Homo sapiens: one gene and its partners. The protein of the gene in region 4 interacts with the protein of the main gene of each other region in a biochemical or structural test. Each region holds a gene or a part of one and is shown on either strand. Other genes may lie near its edges. The genes, in order: RNF115, NUAK1, NRP1 and USP9X.

What was found.
Region 1: the proteins of USP9X (region 4) and RNF115 form a complex in vitro, tested with the Homo sapiens proteins (one study listed by BioGRID).
Region 2: the proteins of USP9X (region 4) and NUAK1 form a complex in vitro, tested with the Homo sapiens proteins (one study listed by BioGRID).
Region 3: of the proteins of USP9X (region 4) and NRP1, one has a biochemical effect on the other in vitro, tested with the Homo sapiens proteins (one study listed by BioGRID).

What each region holds. Positions count from the first base shown.
Region 1 is NC_000001.11:145,764,762-145,772,677, forward strand, and holds part of RNF115 (E3 ubiquitin-protein ligase RNF115), read right to left. Parts: intron 7,159-7,916; coding exon 6,950-7,158; intron 1-6,949. UniProt on the Homo sapiens protein: E3 ubiquitin-protein ligase that catalyzes the 'Lys-48'- and/or 'Lys-63'-linked polyubiquitination of various substrates and thereby plays a role in a number of signaling pathways including autophagy, innate immunity, cell proliferation and cell death.
Region 2 is NC_000012.12:106,135,317-106,143,784, reverse strand, and holds the start of NUAK1 (NUAK family SNF1-like kinase 1), read left to right. Parts: upstream 1-4,830; 5' UTR 4,831-5,131; coding exon 5,132-5,371; intron 5,372-8,468. UniProt on the Homo sapiens protein: Serine/threonine-protein kinase involved in various processes such as cell adhesion, regulation of cell ploidy and senescence, cell proliferation and tumor progression. Phosphorylates ATM, CASP6, LATS1, PPP1R12A and p53/TP53.
Region 3 is NC_000010.11:33,324,285-33,332,200, forward strand, and holds part of NRP1 (neuropilin-1 isoform a precursor), read right to left. Parts: intron 6,599-7,916; coding exon 6,424-6,598; intron 1-6,423. UniProt on the Homo sapiens protein: Cell-surface receptor involved in the development of the cardiovascular system, in angiogenesis, in the formation of certain neuronal circuits and in organogenesis outside the nervous system. Mediates the chemorepulsant activity of semaphorins.
Region 4 is NC_000023.11:41,088,445-41,096,360, reverse strand, and holds part of USP9X (ubiquitin carboxyl-terminal hydrolase 9X), read right to left. Parts: intron 1-7,916.

The DNA of each region.
Region 1 (7,916 bases), on a different chromosome or scaffold from region 4:
CAGCCCCCGCCCAGCCAGCCGCCCCATCCGGGAGGGAGATGGGGGGTGCCTCCGCCCGGCCAGCCGCCCCGTCCGGGAGGTGGGGGGTGCCTCTGCCCGGCCGCCCCTTCTGGGAAGTGATGAGCCCCTCTGCCCGGCCACCACCCCGTCTAGGAGGTGTACCCAACAGCTCATTGAGAACGGGCCATGATGACGATGGCGGTTTTGTGGAACAGAGAAGGGGGAAAGGTGGGGAAGGGATAGAGAAATCGGATTGTTGTTGTGTCTGTGTAGAAAGAAGTAGACATGGGAGACTTCATTTTGTTCTGTACTAAGAAAAATTCTTCTGCCTTGGGATGCTGTTGATCTATGACCTTACCCCCAACCCTGTGCTCTCTGAAACATGTGCTGTGTCCACTCAGGGTTAAATGGATTAAGGGCGGTGCAAGATGTGCTTTGTTAAACAGATGCTTGAAGGCAGCATGCTTGTTAAGAGTCATCACCACTCCCTAATCTCAAGTACCCAGGGACACAAACACTGTGGAAGGCCGCAGGGCCCTCTGCCTAGGAAAACCAGAGACCTTTGTTCACTTGCTTATCTGCTGACCTTCCCTCCACTATTGTCCTATGACCCTGCCAAATCCCCCTCTGCGAGAAACACCCAAGAATGATCAATAAAAAAAAAAAAAATTAAAAAAAAATTATTTGAAGTGAAATATGAGTAATTCCTTAGCATTTATCACAATCTGGATGGAATTTCTCTTAAAGATCATGCAATTTCCTTGCTGATTCTATATGTACTAAACAACCATCTGATTGCTTTTGATTTCTTGATACTTGAGAAATTCAAAGACAAGAGTATGCTAACAAACAAATGAGTTTTATAGTCACTGAAACAGAATACCCTCAGTTATAAATTTATAAATTAATCTGCTGGCACAGGTCAGATGCACTTAAAGTCAGATAAGATGAGCTAGTCTATTCAAGACCTAATTAACTATCATTCAAAAGCTGCAGATTAGAGGATAAAGCACATACTTTAGGGACACTGAATAAATATTTGCAGAATGAATGAACAATGTGAGAGTTCCCTGTCTCTGTGTTAGTAAAAAAGTTTTACTCATGCCAATGAAAAAGTCAAAGAAAATGGACCTCATTTCAGGGAAACTTATTAAGTTGGTGTGAGGAACACACTAATAATCCCACAAAGGCTAATCTCTGACATCTGATTTCTTAAATACAAATACAAAGTACTCTTTTTCTTTTTTTTTTTTTTAATTGATCATTCTTGGGTGTTTCTCGCAGAGGGAGATTTGGCAGGGTCATAGGACAATAGTGGAGGGAAGGTCAGCAGATAAGTGAACAAAGGTCTCTGGTTTTCCTAGGCAGAGGACCCTGCGGCCTTCCGCAGTGTTTGTGTCCCTGGGTACTTGAAATTAGGGAGTGGCGATGACTCTTAACAAGCATGCTGCCTTCAAGCATCTGTTTAACAAAGCACATCTTGCACCGCCCTTAATCCATTTAACCCTGAGTGGACACAGCACATGTTTCAGAGAGCACAGGGTTGGGGGTAAGGTCACAGATCAACAGGATCCTAAGGCAGAAGAATTTTTCTTAGTACAGAACAAAATGAAAAGTCTCCCATGTCTACCTCTTTCTACACAGACACGGCAACCATCTGATTTCTCAATCTTTTCCTCACCTTTCCCCGCTTTCTATTCCACAAAACCGCCATTGTCATCATGGCCTGTTCCCAATGAGCTGTTGAGTACACCTCCCAGACGGGGTGGTGGCCGGGCAGAGGGGCTCCTCACTTCCCAGTAGGGGCGGCCGGGCAGAGGCGCCCCTCACCTCCCGGACGGGGCGGCTGGCCGGGCGGGGGGCTGACCCCCCCACCTCCCTCCCGGATGGGGCGGCTGGCCGGGCGGGGGGCTGACCCCCCCACCTCCCTCCCGGACGGGGCGGCTGTCCGGGCAGAGGGGCTCCTCACTTCCCAGTAGGGGCGGCCGGGCAGAGGCGCCCCTCACCTCCCGGACAGGGCGGCTGGCCGGGGGGGGGGGGGGGGGGGGGCTGACCCCCCCACCTCCCTCCCGGACGGGGCGGCTGTCCGGGCAGAGGGGCTCCTCACTTCCCAGTAGGGGCGGCCAGGCAGAGGCGCCCCTCACCTCCCGGACGGGGCGGCTGGCCGGGCGGGGGGCTGACCTGACCCCCCCACCTCCCTCCCGGTCGGGGTGGCTGGCCGGGCAGAGGGGCTCCTCACTTCCCAGTAGGGGTGGCCGGGCAGAGGCGCCCCTCACCTCCCGGACGGGGCGGCTGGCAGGGCAGGGGGCTGACCCCCCCACCTCCTTCCCGGACGGGGCGGCTGGCCCGGCAGAGGGGCTCCTCACTTCTCAGACGGGGCGGCTGCCGGGCGGAGGGGCTCCTCACCTCCCGGACGGGGTGGCTGCCGGGCGGAGACGCTCCTCACTTCCCAGACGGGGTGGCTGCCGGGCGGAGGGGCTCCTCACTTCTCAGACGGTGTGGCTGCCCGGCGGAGGAGCTTCTCACTTCTCAGACAGGGCAGTTGCCAGGCAGAGGGTCTCCTCACTTCTCAGACGGGGCGGCCGGGCAGAGACGCTCCTCACATCCCAGACGGGGTGGCAGGGCAGAGGCGCTCCCCACATCTCAGATGATGGGCGGCCGGGCAGAGACGCTCCTCACTTCCTAGATGGGATGGCGGCCGGGCAGAGACGCTCCTCACTTTCCAGACTGGGCAGCCAGGCAGAGAGGCTCCTCACATCCCAGACGATGGGCGGCCAGGCAGAGACGCTCCTCACTTCCCAGAAGGGGTGGTGGCCGGGCAGAGGCTGCAATCTCGGCACTTTGGGGGGCCAAGGCAGGCAGCTGGGAGGTGGAGGTTGTAGCGAGCCGAGATCACGCCACTGCACTCCAGCCTGGGCACCATTGAGCACTGAGTGAACGCAACTCCGTCTGCCATCCCGGCACCTCGGGAGGCCGAGGCTGGCGGATCACTCGCGGTTAGCAGCTGGAGACCAGCCCGGCCAACACAGCGAAACCCCGTCTCCACCATAAAAATACGAAAACCAGTCAGGCGTGGCGGCGCGCGCCCGCAATCGCAGGCACTCGGCAGGCTGAGGCAGGAGAATCAGGCAGGGAGGTTGCAGTGAGCCGAGATGGCAGCAGCACAGTCCAGCTTCGGCTCGGCATCAGAGACAGAGAGAGACCATGGCAAGAGAGGGAGAGGGAGACCGTGGGGAGAGGGAGAGGGAGAGGGAGAGGGAGCCATTGTTTCATCTTACCCCTGAGAAACAAAGGCCCAGCGAGGTCAGACGCTTGCCCTTGGCCTGGGCCACACAGTGAGTGAAGGTCAGAGCCTAGGCGGGAAACCACCTCTTTCACGGCAAAGCCTTTGTTCTGGCCTCACTCCTCCACTTTCACTCTTCTCCGCTCAGATCCTGCCCATCCCCTGGGCTCACAGGAGATGCCCCTTGGAGGCCTCCAGGCCAGCGCCCACCCCTGTGGCTGTGGCATCCTCTCCAATGGCAGGCACAGACCTGGACCCTGTTGGCGCCAGCCAAAGTACTCTTTTTCTTGAAATGAGGTCTTGCTCTGTCGCCCAGGCTGGAGTACAGTGGCGCAATCTCGGCTCACTGCAACCTCCACCTCCCAGGTTCAAGTGATTCTCCTGCCTCAGCTTCCTGAGTAGCTGCGATAACAGGCAACCGCCACCATGCCTGGTTAATTTTTGGATTTTTAGTAGAGATGGGATTTCATCATGTTGGCCAGGCTGATCTGGAACTCCTGACCTCAAGTGATCCACCTGCCTCGGCCTCCCAAAGTGCTGATTACAGGTGTGAGCCACCGCACCCGGCCATTAAATACAAAGTACTCTGTCTACAGTGAAACCCGTAGAATGAACAGGAATCTGAGATGCAGCCCATGGAAACCATAAGTGGAATGCCCATATGCTCCTTCTCAAAGCAAGAGGACAAAACTGTTATCAGGAAGAAGCCATGCTAAAATTCAATCAATTTTTAAAAATGTATAAAACATGAAATTGTACTTTCAAAACATACAGTGACATCATAATGACAATTACTGTAAAGTAACAACCATATGGAACAATCTAGGCAGGCCTGCTAGCTGGGTATAGTAATAGGCCCCAAAGATATACTGTGTTTATTTATACTTCTATGAAAGAAAAGAGAAAAGAAACTGAATTAAAAACTTTCAAGTTCTATTTACTGATATACTGGTGCCTTGGAAGGAAAGTTTCTGAGAAAATTAGGGAAATGCTTAAATCTTTGGTTAAAAAATAAGTGAGAAGGCTACTTAATTTTAAATTTTTGACTTATACTAAATAGTTATACTAAAATTTTTTAGTATAAGTAAACAGTTAAAAATCTCACCAAATACAAATACTTTGATTATTGCACTATCCTGGCTCCAATATTTAACTGCCTTTATACTCTTAGACAATTTACCTAAACTCTCTGTGCCTCAGTTTCTCCAGTAAAATGGAGATATTCACAATACCTTCTTCACATGGTTATAGTGAGGATTAAACAAATGAATACCTGTAAAGCATTTAGACTAGTTTCTGGCACATACTCTTAGCTATTATTACTATTAATTCATATGTTTTTTATACTTTTTAGAGACATAATTACAATTATCCACTTATTCAAAACAAACATGTTTAGTAGCCACTATAAAACCGATACTGCACTAGAAGCTGAGAATACAGAGATAAATAAAACACTACCCTATACTATCAACCACAGAAGTAACTGAAAAGACTGTAATAGATCTAGTTCCCAAAAAGATACCAGGTCCAGATGGAATTACAGGTAACTTGCATTAAACCTTTAAATAATAGGTAATTCCTGTGTTATGTAAACTATTTCCAAGCATAAGAATACAGCAAGTTTTCCCAGTTCCTTTTATGAAACTAATATAATCCTGACACCAAAACTTGATAAAGAGACTCATCCTCTTTTGAATAAATGTAAAAATCCTTAAAAAAAAAAAAAAAAAAGATAAGGAACAAATCAACTCCAATAATGTGTTAAGAGACTCCAGCCTGGGCAACCTAGTCTCTACCAAAAATTGAAAAATTAGCCAGGCGTGGTGGCACATGCTTGTAGTCCTACCTAGTTCATAGGCTGAAGTGGGAGGATTGCTTGAGCCCACCGAGTTTGAGGTTGTAGTGAAACATGATCTTGCTACTGCATTCTAGCCTGGGAAACAAAGTGAGACCCTGTTTCCCCAACCCCGACCCCTAAAAAAGAGGTTTTAGTGCTCCTTGACAAAGCAGCTTGAATAAAAACACTAGAAAACATTAGAAAACCTACTTGTTAATAAAATGCATTAACTGTTTAAGGGAGAAAAACTCTAAGGTCATTTTGATAGGACTGCAAAGGGCATGTGACAAAATCATTAGTCATTCTTAATTAAAAGCCCCTAATAAATTATGAATAAAATTAAACTTTCTTAGTATGATAGTGCATATATTAGGAACCAAAAGCAAACAAGTTTAACAAAGAAACACTAATGGATAGATATGTAATAACGCAAGTATAGTAAAATGTTAATAAAGCCTAGAAGGTGTGTGTTGGGGGAAAGGGGGAGTGTAGGCTCTAGAACAGCACTGTTCAATAGAACTAAGATAATGGAAATTTTCTATAATATGTTCTGTCAAATATGATAAGTATTAGCTACATGTGGCCAATGAGCACTCAAAATATAGCTATTTGGGATTGAGGTACTTTGAATTTTGAGTTTTATTAACTTTTGGTTAACTTAAATGTAAACATATAGCTACATGTGGCTAGCAGCTACCATATAAGACAATGTCGCACTAGATTCATATAGCCCTAGATTCAAGTCTTAGATCCACCAACGGCTGTTACTTTATTTCTGAGACTCAGTTAATTATTTTATAAAATGAAAACAGCAATAGCACCTATTACTTCACACAAATTAAACAACATAAAGCAGATAAAGCATGAAGCACAGTCCTCTGCATATGGTAAACACTTAAAATTAACGTTTATTATTCCAACTAAATGAGATCCATGAGCAAAACCATCTATTTGACTCATCATTGTGTTCCTAGTGTCTAGTACAGTGTCCCATACAAAAGACACTCAACAAACATTTATTACATGAATGTTTTTACAGTCACAAGACTTCATATTTATCCTATTAAATTTTTTTCCTTTCTTCACAAAAAGCAGATACTTGATTAAATTTCATGTTAAGTCCACTGTTCCAATCTGTTGAAATATTTAATCCTAATGCCTAATATATTTGATACCCTTTTGAAATTTTGATAAATATACTGCTATAGTTTGAATGTGCCCTCCTCAAAAATTCATGTGTTGGAAACTTAATCCCCAGTGGAGCAGTGTTGAAAGGTGGAGACTTTAAGAGATGAATCTCCTGTGAGTGGATTAAATGCCTTTATCCTGGAAGTGGATTAGTTATTGTTGAGTGAGTTCCTAATAAAAGGATGAGTGTGGCACCTTTCTTTCTTGCTCATGCATGCTCTCTTGCCCTTCTGCCTTCCAACATGGAATGACACAGCAAGAAGGCCCTCGCCAGATGTGGATCCCTCAACCTTGGACTTCCCAGCCTCCAGAAATATAAGAAATGAATCTCTGTTCTTTATAAATCACCCAGTCTCAGGTATTCTGCTATAGCTGCACAAAATGGACTGAGACACATATCATCTATAAATTAATCTGAGCCATTAATAAAAATGTTAATCAGAGACATAGCATTTCTCACTCTCTGGTTTATCATCGGGTGAGTACTAACATTCAATTTAGCTTCACTTTCATCCTTTCTACATATGTCCATCTTGTCCACAAAGGTAATAAGTATGAGACCCTTATAAAGATTAGATTATACCAATTTGTCCTTCATTGAAACTACCTTAAAAAGAACTTAAAATAAAACAACTCACCCTTCAATAGCTGGAGATCTGTCAGGACGAGAACTTCCTCGAGATCTGTATCTCCGACCCAATGGCAACCGTGGAGGTCTTGCTCCCCAGAAGTCAGTGTGAGTCTGGTGACCCCTTTCATTGGCTCTATTATCTTGGTCCAGTGGACTGCTACTTAGAAAGGGTCTAAAATCTTGAAAAAACATCGTGTGATCCAAATGGCCCCAAAGCTAGTAAAGACCAGAAATAAGTCACATGTTAGAAAAATCAATCAATAAACACCTGGATTGTTTACAGTTTTTTATATTACAAATGGCCACTGTGAATATTACTGTATGTCTTCTTCTGCAGAGGTACCAGAGTTTCTATATTTTTGGTCTGTAAAACTATTACATGATCTATACATCTTCAACTTTACTGGGTAATGACAAATTGTTTTCCAAACTGGTTGTAGCAATTTAAACACCCACCAAGTGTTTAAGAGTTTCTACTGTGCCACATCCTGGCAAGCACTTGATGTCACAGGACTTTTTTTAAAAAAAGTTTTTAACAATCAGTGAACAGAAAATGATTTTCCATTGTGGGGCTTTTGGTTTTGCTGTGTAAGAAAAATTACGAATGTTTAATTAAAATGCATGTTTCGGTCCTATGCCAAAAAGAAAATTTAATAGATCTGTGGTGAGCCTGAAGACTCCTTTTAGCATTTCTTACAGGGCAGGTCTATTAACAATGAAGCCCCCTCAGCTATTGTTTATCTGGGTATGTCATGATTTCTTCTTAATTCCTGAAGGATAGTTTTGCCAGATTTAGAATTCTTGGTTGGCAGGTCTGTCTTTCATCACTTTAAATATGTTATCCCACTGCCTTCTAGCCTCCATGGTTTCCGCTAAGAAATCAACAGAAATTCATCTTATTTAAGATCCCTTATATTTTACAAGTTGCTTCTCTCTTGCTGCTTCCAAGATTCTCTCTTTATCTCTGGCTTCGG
Region 2 (8,468 bases), on a different chromosome or scaffold from region 4:
ACCCACCTTGCAGTTTTACGATGATTAGCAGGGCGATATGCATATGTAGGGGTCCTAGGTAGTAAATAAATAATGTAGTAGGTAGTAAATAAATAATGACTGCTACTACTATGTTTTCTGAACAAATGTTTCTTTTTTTTCTTTTATTTTTAACTGACACATCATTGTACATATTTATGGGGCACAGTGTGATATTTCGATACATGCATACAACGTGTAATGATCAAATCAGGGTTATTCACATAGCAAACATATATCATTTTGTTGTGTTGGGAACATTCAAAATCTGCTCTTCTAGCTATCTGAATATATAAAATAAATTATTAATATAGACAATATATTGTATATAATTTATATACAATAAATTATAAACATACAATAAATAAATATATACAATCAATAATGAATATATACAATATAATATTCTACTGTATGTTCTTAAATACACAATATAAATTACTAATTTATTGTATCCTCCCAATTAAATTATTAATTATAGTCACCCTGCAGTGCTATCAAAGATGAGCACTTATTTGTCTTATCTAGTTGTAATTTTGTGCTCGCTAACCAACCTTTGGCTATCCCTGTCCCCTCCCCCAACCTCTAGTAACCACAATTCTACTCTCTACTTCAATGAGATTAACTTTTTTAGCTTCCACATATGAGTGAGAACATGTGGTATTTGTCTTGCTGTGCCTGGCTTATTTCACTCAACATAATGTCCTCCAAGCTCATCTATGCTGCCTGAATGACAGGATTCCTGAACAACGATTTCTTGAGAAAGCGAACATACCTTCTTTCTTTTAAATTGCTTTGAAAATAGAAAGTGCAGTGAAGGACCAGTAATGAGCCTTATGTAAATAAAAGATGTAGGATAGTGTGGATGTCACACTTTCAAGTGCCAATGTTACTACATCTGTCCTGTATCCAAGAACAAAACCAGAAATCAGAGTCTAACCAAGCAGTATGATTAAACTGCTTAAAATTGCCCCAGGCCAGGCACGGTGGCTCATTCCTGTAATCCCAGCACTTTGGGAGGCCTAGGCAGGTGGGTCACCTGTGGTCAGGAGTTTGAGACCAGCCTGACCGACATGGTGAAACCTCGTCTCTATTGAAAATACAAAAAAATTAGCTGGGCGTGGTGGCACATGCCTGTAATTCCAGGTACTTGGGAGGCTGAGGCAGGGGAATTGCTTGAACTAGGGAGGCGGAGGTTGCAGTGAGCCAAGATCGTGCCATTGCACTCCAGCCTGGGTGACAAGAGTGAAATTCCATCGCAAAAAAAAAAAGGCTCCAAATTCTAGTAGGAGCTATGGAAGATGAAAAGTATCGTATTAATATCCACGATTTATTGAGTGGATATAGTCTAGCCCTTAATCCTCATACCAACCCTGTGGGATGTGTTATTGGCGTAATTGCTAATACCACATACATTGTTACTGTCAGGCCTCTGTGCCCAAGCCAAGCCATCGCATCCCCTGTGACTTGCACGTATACGCCCAGATGGCCTGAAGTAACTGAAGAATCAGAAAAGAAGTGAAAATGCCCTGCCCTGCCTTAACTGATGACATTCCACCACAAAAGAAGTGAAAATGGCCGGCCCTTGCCTTAAGTGATGACATTACCTTGTGAAAGTCCTTTTCCTGGCTCTTCCTGGCTCATCCTGGCTCAAAAAGCTCCCCCACTGAGCACCTCACGACCCCCACCCCTGCCCGCCAGAGAACAACCCCCCTTTCTTTGACTGTAATTTTCCTTTACCTACCCAAATCTTATAAAACGGCCCCACCCCTATCTCCCTTTGCTGACTCTCTTTTTGGACTCAGCCCGCCTGCACCCAGGTGATTAAAAGCTTTATTGCTCACACAAAGCCTGTTTGGTGGTCTCTTCACACAGACGCACATGAAAGTTACCATCGCCACTTTGCAGATTAGAGAACTGAGGCATAGAGGGGGAAAACAATTATCCAAGATGATCATAAGAGGTGGAACAGGGATTTGAACCTAGTCACTCTGCCTCTAGATCTGAAGCTCTTAATCAAGGAGCCTGGGCTCTTGTTGGAGAAAATGCTTTATCGATGTGAAAACATTCACACACAATGCCTGATAGCATTGTGCTGAAGTGTGGTTCCAATTATAAACGTGGTAGGAATTCAGTCTGGAGAGGAACTCCCAGTGCCTGGGCATGACTGTGTGCTAGGCATTGTACTGGGTGTTTTTCATCCTTCCCATTTAAGGAGACGGAGCATGGCATATATGAAAGGAGAAGGGGGAGCTTTGGAACTGGACAGGTAGGGTTTAAATCCTGGTCCTGCCATTTACAAACTGTGTAACCTCTGGGAAATTACTTAACCTTTCTGATACGGTTTCTTCAATTGAAAATAGGGATTGTAAACAGCTACTTTACAGAGGAGGGTTTACTGTCATAAAACAGTACCAGCCTATGGTAGATGATGCTGTTGATTCAATAGATACTGATGAAGTCCCACATATCTGGGAGTAACACTATCAGCCAGAATAAGCCAGGTTATGCTGCTTTAACAAATCCCACTGACTTAACATAAATAAAGTTTAATATTTGCTGACACTACTTTTCCAATGCAGATTGGCTGGGATTTTCTGCCATCTTTACACAGAGACTCAGGCTGGCTTGGGGAGGCTCCAACTTTGTACCACCATGATTGTCAAGATAGGAAAAAGAAGACATGGGGATTTGCTCACTGGCTCCTAAAGGTTCCAAGTGAAAGCAACACAATCACTTCTGCTCTCATTCCATTGGCCTAAGCAAGTCCGATGGTCTCATCTAACTTCAAGAGGATGGGGTAGTGGATTTCTACCACATCGCAGGGGAGGGGAAGAAGTAGAAAATATTTTAAAATACTACTGTAGACACAATGTGTTTATCTCTACAATAGATCTGCTAAATCCATATCTTAAGAGAAAACCGAAGCTCTGAGAGGTTATGTCATTTGACCAAGGCCACACAGCCAATCCTCTGGGAAGCCAGGACTCAACCTGCATGCCACTCATCCTGACTGTGGGATCTATAGGCACAACGTCCACAAACTGTATAGAAGCAGAACAGTTTCAGGATGGGGGTGGGTGGCAGGGAGGCCCTGCAAATGCGGTGGACAGAATAGGAATTGAATAGGCATGATGCGCCTTTGTGTCTGTGTTCTGTCATTGCTCCTGGGGAAGGGAAGAAGGGGCAGGGAAGTTTGTGTGAAATATCAGTAGAAGGAAAGTTTGGACAGGTAAGAATATCACGCGTCAGAGTACAGCAGAGACACGTGTGGAGGATGAGGGCAGTGTTTCAGGCCATTACTCTGGCAGCAGTGAGGAGGCTCCCGGGGAGGGTTGGGGAGAGCGGGCTGTTGCTGGAGTCCGGGGTAAGGTGACCAGGGGTAGACAGGAATGAAGGCGGCGGGAATGTAGAGGAAGGGCTGCACCTGAGAGCTGCAGAGGAGGCCCCAGTGAGGTCCACTGGTGGAAAAGAACCGCCATGCGATCTGCAGAACACCAGACCTTCTTCAGCCTTCACTCTTCCCACCCTAGTCTGGTACATTGCACCACTTGTTAAAAAAAAAAATTTCCCTAAGACCTCTTTTTCTCTAGCCTTCTTCCTTATTTTTCATGGTCTCTTCTTAGAACGGCGGCAGCCACGCCGCGGTGGGAGGCCCTTCCTGCCTGACCCTTACCGTGCGGGGTACCGTTCCTGTCACCATCGCCAGGATCTGGCCCTTTCAGTGAAAGGAAATCTCCCAAGGCCTAAGGAGGCAAGAGGCCTGCAAATCGCCTCCTGCTCAGCAAACGGGTTGCTCAGCAGGCCCGGGGTCCTGGTCCACCCCAGGTCCCTGGTTTGCCCACCTCCGATGGCGGCCTTCGCTGGCAGGGTGGGCGCCTCTGGGGAGCCAGCTCCGTCCCGGCGCCTTTAGAGCCCCATCTCTTCCACGTCCCTGGCCTTCCTCCCCTTCCAGGCGGCTGTCCCCGCCGGGGTCCAGATGGTGTCGGAGGGCCGGCGGTTCGACGGCGGGCCCGGGGTTCAGCCTCCCGGCCTCCCTCCGTCCCTGACTCTCCTTTCTTCGGAGAGGGCGCGGGGGCCGGGGCCAAAGCGCCGCTCTTGGGGTTCTCCTGGACTCGGAGTTGCCCCAGGCGGGCGCAGCTCTGCCCCGCGGGGTGCCAGCCTCGGGCGGGCAAGGTCCGTGAGTCACCGCCTGTAACCGAACACCAGGCCTCCCTGCCCCCTCCCCCAGCTCCGGCCGCCAGGCTGCGGCGACACCTACAAGAAAATGAAGGGGCGCCCAGGCCCGCGGCGGCCCCGGCCGTATCGCGAGCAGGTCCCGGCGGCCCCCGGCTCGCGGCGCTCTTTCTTCCCCGGCCCCGGGGCTCGGCCAGCCGCAACCGCCGCCCCGGCGCCAGCAGGAATCCAGGCCGAGCGACCGGCCCCGGAGCCCGAGGCGGCGGAGGGCCCGCGGTAGCTGCGACTGGCGAGCCCGAGAGCGCCCGGGGAGGGGGCGCCCGGCTTGGAATTTCCCGGTCCCTTCCGGCCCAGCGAGGACAAAGCACTCCTGGCCGCCGCCGCCGCCGCCGCCGTGGCCTACGCCGCGCCGCACAAAGGGCGAGTCGCGACACGCTCCCATCCCCCTCCCAGCTCACGGCGGCCCCGGCCCCGGGTGGCTGCAGGGAGGTGGGGGAAGCCCTGGCTGCACCGCCCCTCGCTCCCCCTCCCCTGGGGCCGCGCGAGCGCCGCCCCCGCCCCGTCTGCGCGTCCTCCCGGGGAGGGGTTGGGGGGCGCGGCGCCCCACATAACACTCCCCCTCCTGCGCTGCGAGCCACCCTCTCCCCTCCCTCCTGCAAACACCACCGCCTCCCCTGCCACCGCCGCCACCTCGCCCGACGCTCCACAGCTCGCCGCGGCCGGGGGGCGGTGCGCGGACCGTGCGCGCCGCGGGCGCCAGATGTGCAGTCCCCGCCGCCGCCAGTGACCGAGCCGCAGTCCGAGCGGTATCGGGCCGCCTCCCTGATGCTGCGGGGGCGACCTTGAGCGTACAGCGGCTTCCCTCGGTGGGGACCCCGACATCCCAGCGCTGTGCCCGGTCTTGCCCTCTGTAGCCCGGCTCGCCCCGCGCTTGGACATGGAAGGGGCCGCCGCGCCTGTGGCGGGGGACCGCCCCGACTTGGGGCTGGGGGCGCCGGGCTCTCCCCGAGAGGCGGTGGCGGGGGCGACTGCAGCCCTGGAGCCCAGGAAGCCGCACGGGGTGAAGCGGCATCACCACAAGCACAACTTGAAGCACCGCTACGAGCTGCAGGAGACCCTGGGCAAAGGCACCTACGGCAAAGTCAAGCGGGCCACCGAGAGGTTTTCTGGCCGAGTGGTGAGTGGGGCAATCCTGGAGGGTGCGGGGGGCGCTGGGTGGACGCGGCCGGGGACTGAGGGCGTGCGAGGCGGGGGTCTGTGCGCCCTGGGGCTCTCTTGACAGAGAGGGGGCTCATTGGGAAGCCCCGAGACAGACTCCTCACTCTTTCTCCAGCACCCCGTGACTCAGGCGTGTCTCTGTCCTGAAACACTTGTTACATCCTGTCTGCACATATTTTATTTTATTTTTTGGTTTGTTTTTAAAAATTTAATCCTAGCAGCAAAGGAATGTTTTAGATTTGCAAACACTTTGCAGCGTTGGGACGGCCGGGGTCTCTCTCCCTCGCAGGCACTCATTTAGACCATGCCCCGAAACGTCTTATTTCCACAACTCTCCAAAGAACCACATTCCCAGCTAGGAGCTAGCCCCTCAAGTCCGGTGTTTTGTAGGTGTCCCTACCCCCTTCCACCCATCTGCCCGCAGCTCCTTGCTCTGCATCCTCCCACTCAGACTCTGCATCGCCCTGATACTGCTGTGACTGCAAGGGAGGGCGACTCTTGCCTGTTTTTGAGACAAGGTTAGGGAGCAAAAATAAAGACTACTGCAAGCCTGAGGATTCTAACAGTTTGCATCATGGCTTTGGGAGGACCGAAATGTCCAGGGCATGGGTAGCTACAGAGATAGCTGTGCTTAGTTGCAGCAGGCTCAGTTGTGTTTCAGCTCCTGGTTGCAGGGCTACCAAACCGCTGAAGGGGTCTGGCCCCGCTGCTCTTGTGACAGCTGACACCCTGCCAGGGTCCTGGCACCATTTGCACAGCTCCAAGGAGTGCTTTGAGTGCCTTGGGGTCTGTCTGCCTTGTCCCAGCCTTGGTTTGTTGTTATTTTCACTTCTGCAGAACAGGCCCTTGAAATCCACACTGCTTGTGGCTAGAGAGTTGGGTTCAAAGTGACTGACTGTTGCAGAAAGATTTTGTGTGGTGTGTGGCAGAAAATTAACATGGTTCTTTGATTTGAAGCAGATCAGATGTATTCTAATCGATTTAGGGCCAAAGTCAGAAACTGATTATGGGACTCCTTGTGTGCACTTTTGGGGGTGTTTTGGAGGCTCAGGTTTGCTTATAAACAACAAATGACTGCAGGGAAAAAGGAAAATGAGCTGTCAAATAAAATAGCAGCTTAGTATTGACATGTTTCTTTTGCATTTCGGCAGGAACAGTTCTGTGAAAAAAACATGGGGGTGCCAGTCAGCAAAGTTCAGTCCCCAAATTCTCAAATATCTGGATACCCGGATAACGCCCTCCCAACCCATTTCTCAGATTTGATGTTTGGGTCTATATAACTTCGTCCCATAACGTTATTTTAAAAAAAAATCTGTTATCAATTAATTGGAAATTTGAGATGGCGTACATTTCTTTTTAAAGCTGGCTCTGTAATAAATTCTACAGCAAGCAAGTAGTTGAGAATTCACTCTGGGCAGGTGCCATTTTCGTAGGATGAAATTGTTAAAGGGGAGGGTTGTAAGGGTGGCCTCTGATGAAGGCAATTTCAGGTTTGTGGAAGAAGAGGCTGGGAAACGTGCACTTCATTCATGCTTTTCTTCTGAGGTGATATTCCCCAGGCTGGATGTTGAATAAGCAAAAACTAAGCTTAGATCCCTGCTCATGTTGTCTTAATAGCTGCTGAAGAATCGCACTGGGAAGGTGGGAAGCAGAATAATGAAAAACAGACGCAGTTCGAGCTGCAGGTTGAGAATGTGAGGCTATGAGGGGTTGTTGAAGTGGTAAGGGTGTGTCTAGGGTCTGTGAAGGGACCCCAAAGTCTAAATGCTGGGGCACTACCTCAGACCTTTCTAACGAACGAACCCTTGTCTTATGGCAGACGCCTTTCTGAGCGTCAGTGGGACTTCCTGTCAGGCGTTCTTGAGCTGTCTGATCCACAGACTAGGTTAGAGTGAAAGGGATTTGCATCAGTAGGCAGGAGTCCGCCTTTCTCTTTTGGGGGATGTCTTTCTCTGTATTTGCAGAAACTGAACATTCCGTCAGGATTTAGTCAAGCGGCCACGAGGGGGCGCCCTGAGAACGAGAGAGGCTTCTTTACCAGCCGCAAATCTGAAGTCCCGCTGTGTTATTGTTCAGCCCTAGTTCATTTTCCCATTGTGCTATTAATTTCAGCTAAATCTCTTGTTTTACCCCAAAATTATGTAAAGATTTTAAATCTGGCAGCAGACCCACGCCCAGAAACTGACAGTCTCTAAAATGCTTCGTTTATTCATGGGGCTGCTTTCTCCTTGATAGCTGAGCTTACAGAATGTTAGCCAGATCCCTGGGTAAAAACCTTGCATAAAACAGATGGGAAAACTGAGGTTTGGGGAAGGAAAGTCCTCCTTGGCCCCCCGTCCTCCCCCTGCTGAGCACACTGCTCACAGATGGTGTTAAGAACTTTAGTGAGAAACAGGAATTGTCAAGTGGAAAATTTCCTGTGACTGGCTGAACAGAAAATAACACCAAACAAACAAAAAATTGGTCAACGAGTTGTTCTTGCCCATACAGTGCCTGGTGACTCAGAACCTGTTAAGAGCAGTAAGACATTTTCATCTAAAATATGAACTTGGAGTTTTCTTCTGGTACCAGCGATGTGCTAAACATTCACAACATGCTTTGAAGGTGCAGTTGAGGAGAACTGAAAGGGCACTATCTTAATTTAGCCTTTTGATCTTTGGGTAGAATTTTGAAGTGATGTTTTATTTTCATTTGCACCAGTGCCTTTTACAGCATCTCTCAAGAGGAGCAGTGGTTCTAACGTGTTTTACTAATGTGAGTGGCCCAAGACAGGTGCCGAGTATGGGGTTGTATGAAATGCTGTGAAATCAACATCCCTGTTGAAAGCAGGGGTTCTTCTCAGAGAGGAGAGAAGTTTCTAAAAAATGAGGATGTGATGGTTTTTAATTGCATACCTGGAAGGACCTTCTGAATAAAACAAAACACAACACAGCATCATTTTCTATGTGCCGCGAAAGGCAGTTCTGAAGAGAAGTGCAGAATGAGATGCTTGGAGTCAGCTGGTGCGACCCTGTGTGTCGTCCAGGCACTCTCCTGCAGTCTTGCAGCCTCTGCTA
Region 3 (7,916 bases), on a different chromosome or scaffold from region 4:
CAGTTCTTCTGAGGAGGGTTCATTCTTCCACCAATAGTTTTTTAATTGAATTGAGCTTGGTGGTGGTGCCTCTCACATTGAGAAGTCACCAGAGATCAAAACCAGAAATAAAAAGATGAAGAAAAATACGGCAAAGGAGAATGTTTCTGAATTTGCTTGCACATAAAATCTGCATAATAAAGCAGGCTCCAGATTGAAAAGTTTGAAACAAAGACAAGATATTTCCATCAGTAGCCACTGAAAAAAATTAGAAAATGCATCAGTAGGATTCTGCTTTTTGATTAGAAATAGTACCTATTTTTTCTATATCCACTCCAAAGACTTTCACTGTCTATGTTCAAGGATAGTACCCACAGGCTTCTTTTTTTTGAGACGGAGTTTTGCTCCTGTTGCCCAGGCTGGAGTGCAATGGTGCGGATCTTGGCTCACTGCAACCTCCGCTTCCCAGGTTCAAGCCATTCTCTTGCCTCAGCCTCCCGAGTAGCTGGGACTACAGGCGTGCACCACCTTGCCTGGCTAATTTTTGTATTTTTAGTAGAGACGGGGTTTCACCATGTTGGCCAGGCTGGTTTCAGTCGAACTCCTGACTTCAAGTGATGCCTGCCTCTGGCTCCCAATGTTTGCGAGTGAGCCACCGTGCCTGGCCTGTACATACAGACTTCTAAGACTCTAGTTGAGTTTTACCTGATTTTGAAATGTATAAAAATGAAGTCACAGAAGTTAGGACAGCAGTTGCCCTTGAGGGCAAAGGTTGGTGACTAAAACTGACATCAGAGGGCTTCTAGGAAGCTGGAAATGTTGGCCTCTAGATTGGTTTTGTGGATGTATCCACCTTGCAAAATTTTATCAAATCTTATACTTGGGTTGTGTATTTTTCTAAATATATATTATACTTTACTAAAGGTATATATTCTTCTCTATTTCATATGGAAAATAGAGATGTAGTTTGGCTTAAAAAACTCAGTTTTCCATAAAACAAGGATTTTGTTTTAGTCTAAGTGATGCTCTAAAATACAAGACTAGAGTGAGGTACTTCCCTTGGATACAAAAAGCCAAAAACTCAGTGATTAAGATAAATAGTATTTTAATGTAACATTTTTTAAAAATCCAAATTAATCCTAAAAAATCCATGCTAGTAATAATAAAGAAAGATTAAAACAGAAAATATTACTCATATTACTCAGGAAAACAGAAAATGGAACTTACACTCCAAAAAATGCCAATAAGTGTAAATGTGCAGGAATAAATGTAAATGTGCGGGAATAATCAGATTTGAGAAACCAAGGGCAGATTATTTTTCATTCCATAAGTTTATATTCTCTGAAAATAAAAGACATTAGCACTGTTTCAAAGTTTTTAATAATTTAGGTAATTTAAAAACTAGCATTAAAGGAACAATATCTGAATTATCCCAACAAAATTCTGAAACGAATATCATCTCTATTTGCTTATAATTTCACTATGATTAAACTTCTTACGAAGTTACAAGTATGCGATCTTCCTTTGAACGCACTGAGTTAGGAAAAACATGCCTATTGTTGGTTACACAGAGGAGAGATTACAAATCTAAATCATAGTTGAAAAAAGCAACTGTGCCATGATATGAAACAGCACTGTCAAATCAGACACTGAAGTCGGTAAGTAAGATTTTCTTCTTGTCAGTAGGAAAAGCACTACTGGGTTTGAGTCCCCCAATGCTACCACCTTTTTAGACTTTTGTTAGAGCTTTGCATTCATTTCCTTAATGTTTTTAACCCAATGTCTGTGAAATTTTTATTGCTCCCCGGATGGTGACATCTGATCTGAATGTAACCATACACCTCTTTGCTCAGCAGTATTTGTCACAAACCATTATAAATTATCATGCTGATTGTGTGCATTGCTGGGAAACTGGAGAAGTTTCATAAATTCTAACTACCATATCAATGACATTCTTGTTTATTATACAGATATAAACTTTTATGAGATTCAAGATGTCTGCCTTACCACTGAAGAAAACTTTAGTGGAGTAAGATCTAACTAGTTCGATGTACATACTGAAAACCATTTTCAATGTGCAATGAACATGTGTTTCCGAAAACTCTCCACTGGTCACTTCTTTATTTCTTTTCTATTTTTAATTATGCTTTGACACTTCACAAGTGTGCAGGATTTTGCTGGCAAAAAAGAAATCAACATTCCTTCCTCTCCCTCAACACCTTCTTCGGTCAGAGCATTCTCTAGAATCCTCTCAATCTAATAATAAAATCATGCATATATATAGCTGGGAAAAAATCCTAGTTCTGTGTTAGCCCTGCAGACAGACGCTCCACTGGTCTGTTGATCGACTGATTTACACCACATCTTGTTCAATAAAAGAATTAAGGGGTTATAGTATTATGGTTCTGATGCTTATTTGTAATGAAACCTCATTCAGTGCTGGCATAGACACAGAATGTTGCATGTTAAAACTATGGAGGCACAACTTACACATTTAATTTTCCTAACGAAGTATCCACCTTTGACAGCCACTGCAAAAACTTCACCATTTTGCAAAGTATGATCCAGAATTAACTCATGAACTGGGTCAGTCTTGGTGCTATTCACATGAGAAGTTGTGACTGTATACTGTATTGTTAAGATTATGAAATGATGTTTTTTACCTAATTATACATAAAACAATAAAAATCTAAATAAAAAATTTTTTTTTTTCTACCAGGACTATGTAGCTGGTCTAATGACTTAACCATCCCTATACTCTACAAAAGAAAACTGTTTACTTGGGTTTCAAAGATGTTTCACAATAAGCAAATGTGCTAAGGCATCGATTTCTTAAGCTTTCTCAGGGTGGAAGTTGACTATACAAATACTGACCATTTCAAGAGAAAATGCAGGGTGTATCATGTGCAAATCATCTCATTACTGGGTCAATAGATTTAGTTTTGACGTATGTTTAGTTTCATATTTCCAAATGTTCTAAAAATCACCAACTTGTTAAAGATATCATAATAATGATAACTTATTTTGAGGGTCACTTTTACCTTTTAAAAAGGCTTTCCTATCTACTACTTGATCCTACTAGTAACCCTATGACATCAGCATAGCAAATGTTTTTTACTGCCAACAGACATATAATGAAGCTGGAACAAGGAAAAATATTAAATGTCTTAAATAAGATGAATAGTTTGTTCTTAACAAGAGTGATAACTAAAAGCTCACCAGCTTTCAGAATGTGGTTTTAACTGTGCCTAGTTTTGTGCCACCTCCAATCCATTTTTGTAAATAGCCTGATATAAAGTACAAAAAAACCCTAATAACAAAACTATGTTTGTAGGAATCTAATCTAAACTTTGAAGTCTATGAATTTGTTCTTCAAATAATTTCTGGTGTTCCCAGGTTTTTTTTTTCCCCCTAGGGCATTCCAATCCCCTGTAAAATTTAAATCTGTGGATTCTTCTCAAAGCCTTCACAAAAGGAGGTAAGTATTTTGCCACATTTGTAGAATCTCAAATGCACCCTTCAACACTGAGCACTAGTCATTCATATGAATCAGCTTAGAAAGATAGTGAAAGGAATGCCTTATGCTGGTCTTCCTATATCTTTCTGGAGTTTCTCATTGATAAAAAGCTCACAATGCAACACTTCAAAACACAGCAGGAAGATATTTTCCATGGATCTAATCTCCATTGACTTCATCAGGCTAAATATAACAGCCTTTCAGCTTTGGCCAGGAGATGACACCTTCACAGAGAGCAAAGCCTCAGTTGGGACAATTAAGAAATCACCTTACTCTGTAGCATTAAAAAAACAAACAAAGTCACCATTATTAAGATTGTTATGTAACATCTTCTTGGCCATGTCAGTTTCTCAAATACTTTGCTGATATCACTAAAACTGTCATTTTCTGTGAATTACAATCATCTTTTAATGTACTTTTTAAAAAGAAAACTAACCAAAAAGGTGCTCCTTTAATCCCATTATACCCCACCTGACACCATGATATGACAAATCATTATTTAAGGTTTACTGTGAGCTAGACACCATTGTAATACTGTGAGATGCTGTTGTAATAATTAGTATACGCTGATTATTTGGAAACTGATCATCAGCCTATGGATTTATGCTAATTCTCTAGGCACCAAAATGTTGAATGAACCAGATGACCTTATTTCCCTGACCATGAAAAGCTAGTTTACTACACCAACTCAACAGGTTGTTGAGCGCTTTCTACAGGTAGGAAGATTTTTATATTACTCTGTTCTTTCCCAGAAGAAATGTATGTGCAAATAGAATTGTAAGCCCTTTACATATATTAAGTGATTCAACTGGCTTCCCTTCTTAAATTTCTACTCCAGTTGTGTGCTGGATCTGGCGCCCACCAGCTCATAAGAACCAACTGTGCACATTTCTTTGCTAGTCTGGGCACAGTGACATCACATGGTTAGTTTGAAATTGGCTATGATGAGAGTATTTACACCACAGAAATTGGCATGTGCTACATACAAATGAGGACTTGACTCGTCTTCTCCAAAGAGCCAGCTGTTAAACATTTACCACCACATCACTGCCAATAACTAGTGATTATTCTGAATTCTTTAAGTATTATATTACACGTATTGATGGTCATGATTTCCAGATTAGAAATTAGTAAACGTCAGTTTATTGAATTCTAACAGCACTTTATTTTTTGGAATAATGTTATTACTTGAGTATGTTTTACCAGAGTTTCTCCTATAGCAGTTTAAACATGGTCAAAAAGCAAATACTAATAACTACTGCTACTACTAATGAAGTAAATCAAATATAAAAGAAAACAAGTCTCCAGATTGTCTAGGTGATTGACACTGTAAAAACCACCATAAAGAATATTAGCAAAAATAAATAAATCAATACAATGAACTCTTTGTTTCCAAGCAGTCACTGGAACACTATTAATGGTAACTTCCATACACAATTAAAAAGTCAATATAATGCCCTGAGGCACTTCTGAATCACAAAGCAAAGATAAATTGGAATTGGTGTAATTTTGTTGCACTGTAGTATACACTGATTATTTGGAAACTGGTCATCAGCCTGTGGATTTATGCTAATTCTCTAGATACTAAAATGTTGAATGAACCAAATGACCTCATCTCTCTGACCATGAAAAGCTAGTTTACTAAACCAACTCAACAGGTTGTCGAGCACTTCCTACAGGTAGGAAGATTTTGATATTACTCTGTTCTTTCCCAAAAGAAATGTGTGTTCAAATAGACTGTCTTTAACAATGAATATACTTGCAAAATAATATTTAGGTCCAGCGGTAGCAGTAGTCTGTAGATATCATATACGGTTACACCAAACTGACCCACTTTAAAACTTGTGAAAACCTCTCAGTCCCTGAGAAACACTTTAGAATTGAGATTTAAATCGATTATTTTTCTTTGATAAAACTATTTATATATGTACAAACTTAAAAGATGGATATTCAGGTTCAAGTCTCTGGAGACTACACCACTTTCAGTGGGTCAGAATGGGATAATGTGGACAAGACAGAGACAGGGGGTCTGTTGGGTGTTAAGAGAGACGAGCAAACATGTATCTGAGTGGACTGCTACGTGCAAGGTAAAAACATACTTTCGATACTGTGGAAAGCAATATCCACATACCAGTTCTTTCACATAAAGTGAGGAAATATAATTTCGACTGTCTCTATAGTGAGAATGTCTTCATAATAACGAAATTGGGCATAAGTTGATGTTTAGAAACTTAACAATAGAAAGAGATAGCAAGACTAAGCAGGTGGATGAAACACTGATGTGTATTTGAGTTCCCATTGTATTCATCGTGTCTTAACAATTATTTTCTAGCATTTTCCATAAAAGTATTTTAATCAGTAATCCACCATTTACAAAACCCCTCATCTGGCTTATCCTGTAGGCCTTATTTTATTCAATTTGCTTTTTCCATGTCAAACTTACTTAGTAAGATGAATGCAGTTCTTAAATCATAAGATGTGCCACAGTTCAATATATCTCAAATAGTGAGATCTCCAATCACACTATCTGTGGATGCGATGTATATTAGTGATCCACTGTATTTCGTAAAAATACAAGTGAGATTTTTGAGTTTCTAGTTCTTCCCCTCTCCAGGAAAAAAAAAAAAAGAAAGAAAAAAGAAACATACATACTGTATACATTTCTTAACAAGAGTTCCCAAACCAAAAGTGCTAACAGGAAGGAGTATAAGAGCTTACACATTTAACTATAATCTTCCTGGTTTGGGGAACTCAGAAATCACTTAACGTACTTCAATTTCCATACCATTGACATATAATCTGGCTGAGATTGGAATCCCTCCTGGATCCATTTATAATCTACATTGTACACACCGACTTCCCCCCCGTAGACAGGCGTGACCACTAGATGGTGCTGTGGTGCCCTGTTCAAAAACATTCCCACTTACTTGCAGTCTCTGTCCTCCAAATCGAAGTGAGGGTTGAAGTTGATCATAATTCTCTGGTATGGGTCCGGAGCCTGAATCAGCCATTCGCATTTTTCACTTGGGTGATAAGAATGAGGATAACCAGGAGATGTAAGGTACCCGGGGCTTTCAATTTTTATAGTATCGCCACATTTATCTGCAATGAAAGTAAGATTTTAGCAGATCTTTCCTGACAACCTGTTAGGTAATCTAGCTTTATATGTAAATTACTGGTTATTAAACATTCCTTAACTTTTTAAGGGGAACTCTAAAAGGTCCCCGTAAGTCCTTCGTGTGGCTCTGAGTGCAACACTCCAGGAAAAAACACTCTTTGATCTCAGGAAGGTTGACTCAGGCAGAAAGCCAACTGAGATCTGAGAGGACTCTTCCCCCCAGCCCCGAAGTTTCTTCCTAAGGAAAAGGTCTTCTAGCATTAAAAACATTAAATCCCCTCAATTGATGTTAACATGGTCCCCTGGGAGCTTCTGCTAGACTTAATTATCCCCCAAGAAGTGTAATCACATTAAGTAGCAAGTTCTAAGTGGAAAGTGACTGAAAGATGCTGTTCGACCCCTTGTGTTGTTTTTTGATGATAAGCCTGGTCTATGTCATTGATCAGTGGGGATTGTCTTTGATTGGCTTAAAGCCAAACCTTTTGTTGTTGTTGTTTTATCTGCCCATAAATCTAAGTGATTTTGAGTTATCTCTGCTCTTGAGATCCAAATCAACAGAGAACAAAGTATATTTGGTGAAGCAGAAATAATTCTGCTTTACTTCTCCAAGTAAAGTTGTTCAAGCTTGGAGATCGGATCAAAGCAACGGGGCAGAAGGAAAAGTAAATAGCCACATGGCATTAATTCTAATTACCTAAATGTTGGGTGAAAAATAACCCACCACACAGGTCTGGGTATCACATATGGTAACCCACATTCTCACATTCTGGGAAAGGTGAGCTAAGTAGTTTTGAGCCTTCATTTCAAAAATGCTCAAGTGAAGCCAAATAAACCAAGTAAACCAGTCTCTGGGCTGCCTATATTGTTCAGCATAGATTCTCATTGTCACATTTTATGATGGATTTCATACTGGAGCACCTCAGCCTGAAATGCTGCCACATTTATTGATGCTTAATTTTGAGCAATAAAAATTCGGTGCATAAACTATATAAGAGAAACGGTATGAAAACAGTGAAATATATAAGCCTATCAATCACAAATTTTCAGTAATGGTAGATGTAGATTTTAACACTGCATCTAATAGATTCCCTGTGGAAAGAGAATGGCATTCTTTGCTCTCAGCATGAATTTATAAATCTACAGAATTTTATTACAGGAAAACCAGGTCAAATGGAAATGAAAGATGAAGTGCACATCAAAAATGCATAAAGCTACATGCATTACAGAAATCATTTCCCATAAATTAAAAAAAGAAGACAATATAAGTTATATTGTTTTTCTCAATCGCTAGGTGCTTCTGAC
Region 4 (7,916 bases):
TCCAAAATAGGAAGCAATGAAATAATTACAATTAAACCATCAGATTATTCACCTATGTTTGTATATCAAAGTATTTTAGGGCAAAATAACATCTACACAAACCAAGGAGAGGCTACAATTAATGCTCTCTGGATGCCAGTCTAACCCCTTGCGGGGAGCGGGGGGGAAGATGACACTTGTGCTTTGATAATCCACTGTTTAAGGAACCACATTGAGAGAGTAGTCATTCTGTAACCCAGATTCCCTTCTCTCAATGACCTTTCAACAGACCTCAACAGACAGCAGCTCTCAGTGAGGAAAGGGAATTGGAGGTGGCAGGAAAAGTTGAAAGGAAGACAATAGAGGTGTTTTGCTTTTTAGCTCAGTACTCCATTCTGTGGCAGAAAAGCCAAACTCAAATTAGCAGCACCTCCCTCATACCATGGGAGCACCCCATTGATCTCCTTCCTTTATTCCATTCCCTAATCATTATTTCTTATCTTTCAGAAGAACGGTTAAAATACCATCTCAATCCCCCGACACTCAACTCTCCAACACATCTGCCACGAATGCCATCAGAATTATCTTTCAAAAACAAACACAAATCTAATGTCTCCTTTCACTTAAACTTCAAAGTACATCTCTCATTACCTTAACAGTAAAAGGCAAATGTCCTAACATGGCACTCAAGGTTACCCCTTGTGATTTTAGCTTCACTCAAACTACCTTTCAGTTCCATCTCCCATAACCCCTCCCCTCCCAGTATCTCTAGTGTTCCTTGCACACTCTCCTACTAGTTCTTACTCTGAAAACACTATACTTTCACACTTGCATTGCTCCATTTCAAATAATGGTTCTCAATTTTGCCCCCAGGGCACAACTGGCAATGTCTGAAGACATATGAGTGGGGTAGGGGCTATACCACTGGCATCTTGTGGGTAGAAGCCAGGGCTGAGTAGGACAGCACCTCACAACAAAGACTTATCTGCCCCAAACTGTCAATAGGGTTAAAAAACCCTGCCTGATCTCAAGTTGATCCCTCTGACCGGAAGTCCCTGCTCTAATTAATAGGGCCATGAAAATAGGACATCTTTGAAGACCTCACCCAATGCCAAACAATGATTTCTCCATCTCTCCTACTACACTTTTCACACCTCCACTTAATACAGCTGTAATTGCACTGTATAACTGTCTGGTTCACCATACTTCAGAGCCTTGAAAGCAGAGAATCATCTTTATATACCCTCTGGTGCCTAAAATGGCACAGGTTGAGCATCCCTTATCTGAAAAATCTGGAATCCAAAATGCTCCAAAATCTGAACTTTTTTTTTTTTTTTTGAGACGGAGTCTCGCTCTGTCACCCAGGCTAGACGGAGTGCAGTACCGCGATCTGGGCTCACTGCAACCTCCACCTCCTGGGTTCAAGGGATTCTCCAGCCTCAGCCTCCTGAGTAGCTGGGATTACAGGTGCACACCACCATGCCTGGCTAATTTTCATATTTTTAGTAGAGACGGGGGTCTCACCATGTTGGCCAGGCTGGTCTCGAACTCCTGACCTCAAGTGATCTGCCCGCCTCAGCCTCCCAAAGTGCTGGGATTACAGGGGTGAGCCACCGCGCCTGGCCCCAAATTTCGGATTTTGAATTTTCACTCACCCGCAAGTAATATTCCAAATATTCCAAAATATGGGGAAAAAATTACAAAATCGGAAACACTTCTGATCCCAAATATTATGGATAAGGCGTACTAACTGAATCTATATTAAATCAATGAATTCAATTCAATCACAGTAAGGTAGCACTGACATGATTCTCCTTCCCATAATGCACCGAGGATAACAAAGCAATCCTCAGCTGACATTGATATGGCTCAGATAACGACATGCACTGACATCAGACAAGAAACACACCAGGCACGGTGGCTCACACCTGTAATCCCAGCACTCTGGGAGGATGAGGCAGGTGGATCACCTGAGGTCAGGAGTTCGAGACCAGCCTGGCCAACATGGTGAAACCCCATCTCTACTAAAAATACAAAATTAGCCGGGTATAGTGGCACCCACCTGTAATCCCAGCTACTCAGGAGGTTGAGGCTGGAGAATCACTTGAACCCAGGAGGCGGAGGTTGCAGTGAGCCGAGATCACGCCATTGTACTGTAGCCTGGGCAACAAGAGTGAAACTCCATTTCAAAAAAAAAGAAAAAAGAAATACACCTGTAGTCACTACAGTAGGTTCCTCCTCCAACACTCAGTCTGGCCCCACAATCCCTCTTGCCTCAGCTCAGCATGCTCCAAGTCAACTCTTAAGAATCCTGGATAATTAATTATATCTACAAAGGACACAGTAAACAGATAATATACACACTAATTAAATGAGTAAATGAGATTTTCTATATTTTCAAAAGTCTGGACAAATGCTGTACATAGCCAGTATCCTCCTTTCACATTCCCGAAAATGTGAGAGAAGTCAAAAATTTCAAAAACGACAGTCACCTTTTTAGGGGTTTTTCCCACTCACAGAGTACAGAAACTTTTATTTCTAATTATACCCTCACCTTTCAAATGTAAACTTCATCATACATTTGCCTCACTTAATTCCTATTTCATTCTAATTATTGCATTCACTATTTGCACAAAGCCAACTAACCTAACCAATGAGCACAACCTAATCCAGTAAGGTTTAAGATTCATATCCCTAACCAGTTCCCTCTGTCTCAAGGATATTTAAGACCTCCAGGTAGGCCAGGCATGATGGCTCATGCCTGTAATCCCAGCACTTTGGGAAGCCGAGGCAGGCGGATCACCTGAGGTCGGGAGTTCAAGACAGCCTGACCAACATGGAGAAACCCCAACTCTATTAAAAATACAAAATTAGCTGGGTGTGGTGGCGCATGCCTGTAATCCCAGCTACTCAGGAGGCCGAGGCAGGAGAATCACTTGAACCCAGGAGGCGGAGGTTGTGGTGAGCCGAGATCGCGCCATTTACTTTTTTGTTTTCTGCTCATTCTTATAAAAAGGCAAAATACATCTGAACTTGCACATAAACACAAGATACTGCCGTACAAATACAGCAAAGCTGCTGAAACCAAACTATTCTCAGGCAATACCACCTTGCAATAAAAAGAAATCCCTTTCATCAGCTAATGTACAGAAGTTTGAACCTGACTTAAGGAAAGGAGGTTCAGAGTTGTTAACATATAGTGTATCAAATAGGAGGTCAAGCACAGTGGCTCAGGCCTATAATCCCAGCAACACTGGGAGGCCAAAACAGGAGGATTGCTTGAGGCCAGGAGTTTGAGACCAGCCTGGGAAACACAGTCAAACCCCTGTTCTCTAACAAAAATTAACCAGGTGAGGTGATGTCGGCCTGTGGTCCTACTTACTCGGCAGGCTGAGGTGCGAGGATGCCTTGAACCCAGGAATTCCAGGCTACAATGAGCTATGATTGCGTCACCACAATCCAGCCTGAGTGACAGCGAGACCCCTCCTCTTAAAAAAAAAAATCACTGCTCTTAACTAGGGGCTGGCAAACTATGGTAACAGACCAATTCCAGCCTCCTGTTTTTGTACAGCTCACAAGGTAAGAATGGATTTCACACAGAACGTCTGCAATCAATTTGATGACAGGGAACACTGAACTTTACCCAATAAAGCAAAATACTGTATTACCTCCCCTCCACACACACACACCAAATTGTTTTTCTCATTAGACCTAAGTTATACATAACTGTATTTAATTATATTTTTTATTTCACCAATAAAAATTTTACCCAATGTCCTCAATTTTGCCTCTTAGCCCACAAAGTCCAAAGTATTTACTATGTGGCCCTTTACAGAAAAAGTTTACTGATCCCTGTGCTCTGAACTCCAGAGATGTTACCAAGCAGAGCAACCAAAACTTTGTACACTACACCTCGACCAGAGAGAAAACACTGTTAGGCAGAAATGGGTTCAATACTATACGGTAACTTCCATGCTCTCTGGGGTCCAAGTTAATAATGAGCGGCCTTACTTAGGAGTTCTAAGTAACCAGTTAACAGAAAAGACTAGAAATGAGAGATGTAACCAACAGCCTCAACTTATAACTCTCAATAGCCACCAAAGTCAGCAGGAATAAAATGGACATCAAGGATACTAACAGGAGGCTTCGCCACTCCCTTTTTCCTTTCCACCCAATTCACAGGCTCTGTAGAAGATGGGATCTAATATGCACGATCACCAGCTCAAACTCATCCCAAGGAAAACAATTCCTTTGATTATGGTTGACTAACATGGTGTTCAAAGCTCACATGATTAATAAGAATAAACTGTAGGGTGCCATAAAATGAAGATGAATCAATTCTGTACAAGAGGTTGGAGGTACTGCAAGTTAAATACTGCCCCAGATTTTCCCATTCAGGTAATCAAATGGTTATTATAAACAGTATTATTCTAGGTGCTCTGTAATATACAAAGGTAAAGGACAGAATCCCTGACCTTATTATCCATTACCAGGGAGACAGTTTAATGTTAATTTTATGAGTGACTACAGAGAATTTAATAATTAATGTGATTTGACACATATAGATATAGCTTCATAAAGAAGGTAGTCTATGGCATGCTATCTTGGTCAAGTTACTTCACCTTTCACCTCTTTGAGCCATTTTTTTCATCTGAAAAATGAAGGGTCTGACTAGAAAGAATTGAGATCTCTTCCAGGATTTCTCATTGTAATGAGATTAGTAAGAAAAGTGACTCCCAGAAGTAAAAAGATTTAGCAAAAAATAAGTAAAATAGCAAGAATGTGATAAACTATATTCATCCAACAGTTACTAAATGTCTATATGCCAGGCACTTTCTAGGTGCTAAGGATATTATCACTGACTTAGAATGAAAGCCACTAACCTTAAAGATAGAATTGTGAGGACAAAATTAATCAAAACACCTAAACAAAGTAAATTAAATAGAAAAACACACTGTATAGAGATAATAGAGCATCAATACAGCAAAGGAATGGCAGGAGTAAGGGGTGACACCAGAGTATGTAATTTCTGGTCAAAAATTAACAGCATCAGAAGTACAGCTATTCCTAAAGCCAGTATGCCAAGAATTCCAAAAGAACCTATTTCTACTATACTTGACATTTGGGCTCACTGGAGAAAACTGGAGTTCAGAATGAAATTCTATTTAGTGACAAAAAAAATTCAATTGGCATATACCATAACAAAGTTTTTTTAAATAACAACTTAATCCAATCTCTCCTACGAGGTACATAAAAGAATGCCAGAAAACTAGCACTAAAGACTTTAGAGATCAGCTAGTCCAGCCCACCTCACTTCATATGTTAGCTTCTAGACAACAGTAATCTCTAGAACAGTGCCTAGCACACAGCAGATGCCCCAGAAGTATTTGTTGAACGGATTAAAAAGGAAACAAATGTCTTAACAGATATTAATGTTTATAGTAGAGCTGGAACCGTAACACCGAGAAGGTGCTAAGTGACAATAAATTTGATATATATGTGCACATATACTGTATATAATACATGTGAGTGTGGAATCCCTGTCTCTTCTAGTGTTTGAGCTTTTCACTACATGTTTGTGTTTCAGTCTGGAATTTTTGACTGTGTGACTAACAAAACGAAACTCAAACAAGAGTACTGCTGCCTAATGGTGGAACACATGACATGCAAAGGGTCTCAATTCTCCCCTTTCCCTAAAAGGGACTGCAAAAAAAAACCTCTGGTTACACATCAGACTCACCTATAGAGCAAATATATATTTTGAAAAAGCTCCACAGATGATTGATACACAGAGGTGGTAGAAAATCCTTGTTAGGCAGTGATTGAGAATAAAATTGAAAATCCATTTGCTGCCAAATATAAGATATGTGTGTATACACACGTTGAAGACACCAAGATTTAGCATGAGTATCTTTGAAGAATAAATTTTAGGTAAGCGATCTCATCCTAACAATATACTTTTTCACAAGTTATTCTTTAAAAGTATATTACAATGGTCATCACTTTATAATCCACAATAAATTATAAATTCAATGCCCAATATAGGTAAGTGTTAGAAGTTTTAAGTCTTTTTCCTTATTACATCAACTTTTTTCATGATCCTTATAGTCTCATTTTCTATAATTTAACAAAAAGATCTTTGGGGAATCTTGTGTCACACTAAGAATGCTCATAGGGCCGGGCCCAGTCGCTCATGCCGGGAATCCTAACACTTCGGGAGGCCCAGGTAGGCAGACAGCTTGAGCCCAGCAGTTCAAGACCAGCTTAGGCAACAAGGCAAAACCCATCTCTATAAAAGAGAAAAAAAATACAAATAGCCAGGCATGGGAGCACCTGTAGTCCCGGCTACTCAGGAGACTAAGGGGAGAGGATCACCTGAGCCCAGGAGAGGTGGAGGCTGCAGTGAACCGTGACCACTCCAGCCTCAGTGACAGAGTGAGAATCTGTCTCAAAAAAAAAAAAAAAAAAAAAAAAAAAACCCTCATAGATCCTAAACTCCTATAGGCTTCCCTGCTGCCATGCCCCCACCATGCAGAATTTGGTCCAATGGACCAAGGGGATTAAGAGACAGAAACTCCAAATAAATGTCTGTTATTGTTATTTCATTCGTTCCATAAAACAATTATACATCAATCCCAAAACAACACAAAATTCAAAACGCTTAATCAAAATCAAACTGATTTTGACTAAGACAAATAAAACTCTAAATTCTCAAACTGAGATAACAGAATTTCATGTGACACTAAACGGTAATTTGTGGGATCATTTAAATAAATTACTAGGAGACAAATGCATAGTTTCTACACCTTTTAGGAATGTTGTGTAATATTTTGTCATAAACGCACCAACTAAACTATCACCCTGAGCACGCTGGAAGATATATGGAAGGGGAGAAACCTATTTGCCACATAGCTTTTAACATCTCCCTTGGGCAACCAAGATATTTATCAAATTGGAGACTATCTTGATAGTCTTAAAAACTAAACTATATCTTAACTTACTCTGGTACGAGAAACAAACCAAAAGCTCTAAATGCTTTTTTAAAAATAGCAATCAGTGTCATTTCACTAACATAGCACAGTAGTCGAAGCACCACTGGTTGAACCTGACAGACCTCAGACCCATCGTAAGGCAATAAATGGAAAATGCTTAACAGTGCTGACAGACAATTAATGCTCAAATGATAATCATGCTAATAACTGAAAACAATTGAGAAAAAAATCCATTTTCTTATTTATCCACTTGAAAGTTCTAACAACATGATAAAAACAATAGCCCAGTGGTTTTCAACTCCAAATGCATGTAAGAATCATCCACAATGCTTTTAAAATATACCTTTGCCCAGGCTCCCTATCAGACCAATTAATCAGTCTCTGGGGGTGGAACCCAGGGATCAGTTTTTTTGTTGTGGTTGTTTTTTAACCCCGCCAAGTGATTCTCATGTCCAGTCAGGGTTGAGGTCCAATGCACTAACTCTTTCCCAAATATTAACGTTAAACTCTATGTTAAAATAATACAAGAACTTAGCAATACACAGGATGGCTTTCAAAAACACAGCTCCTAAAAGAACCAAATGACAACTAAAATCCGGTTTTTTCCCTTTTTGAAAAAAAAAAGAAAAACAATTCAAGACTCAGAAAACATACCTACAAGAGGGGAAACATAATGTAGGCTACCATAAAAAGTAATACGTTCTTTCAGAATAAAAATCAACTAACTCAATCTCAGGATAAGACCCCCCTCACCTTCACTGCCCAAAAGACTTAGAAGAACACTAATCCATTAACACACACTGCTAGATATTTCAAATAACTAATTCTTAACATCTGTTTTAAACAAAGATTGGTTTTAATACTAAAATTTTGAAACTAAAACGTTAGAAATTGATCTTATTAAATAAAAATAAGCTCAAAGACACTTGTTGTGTGACCAACTAA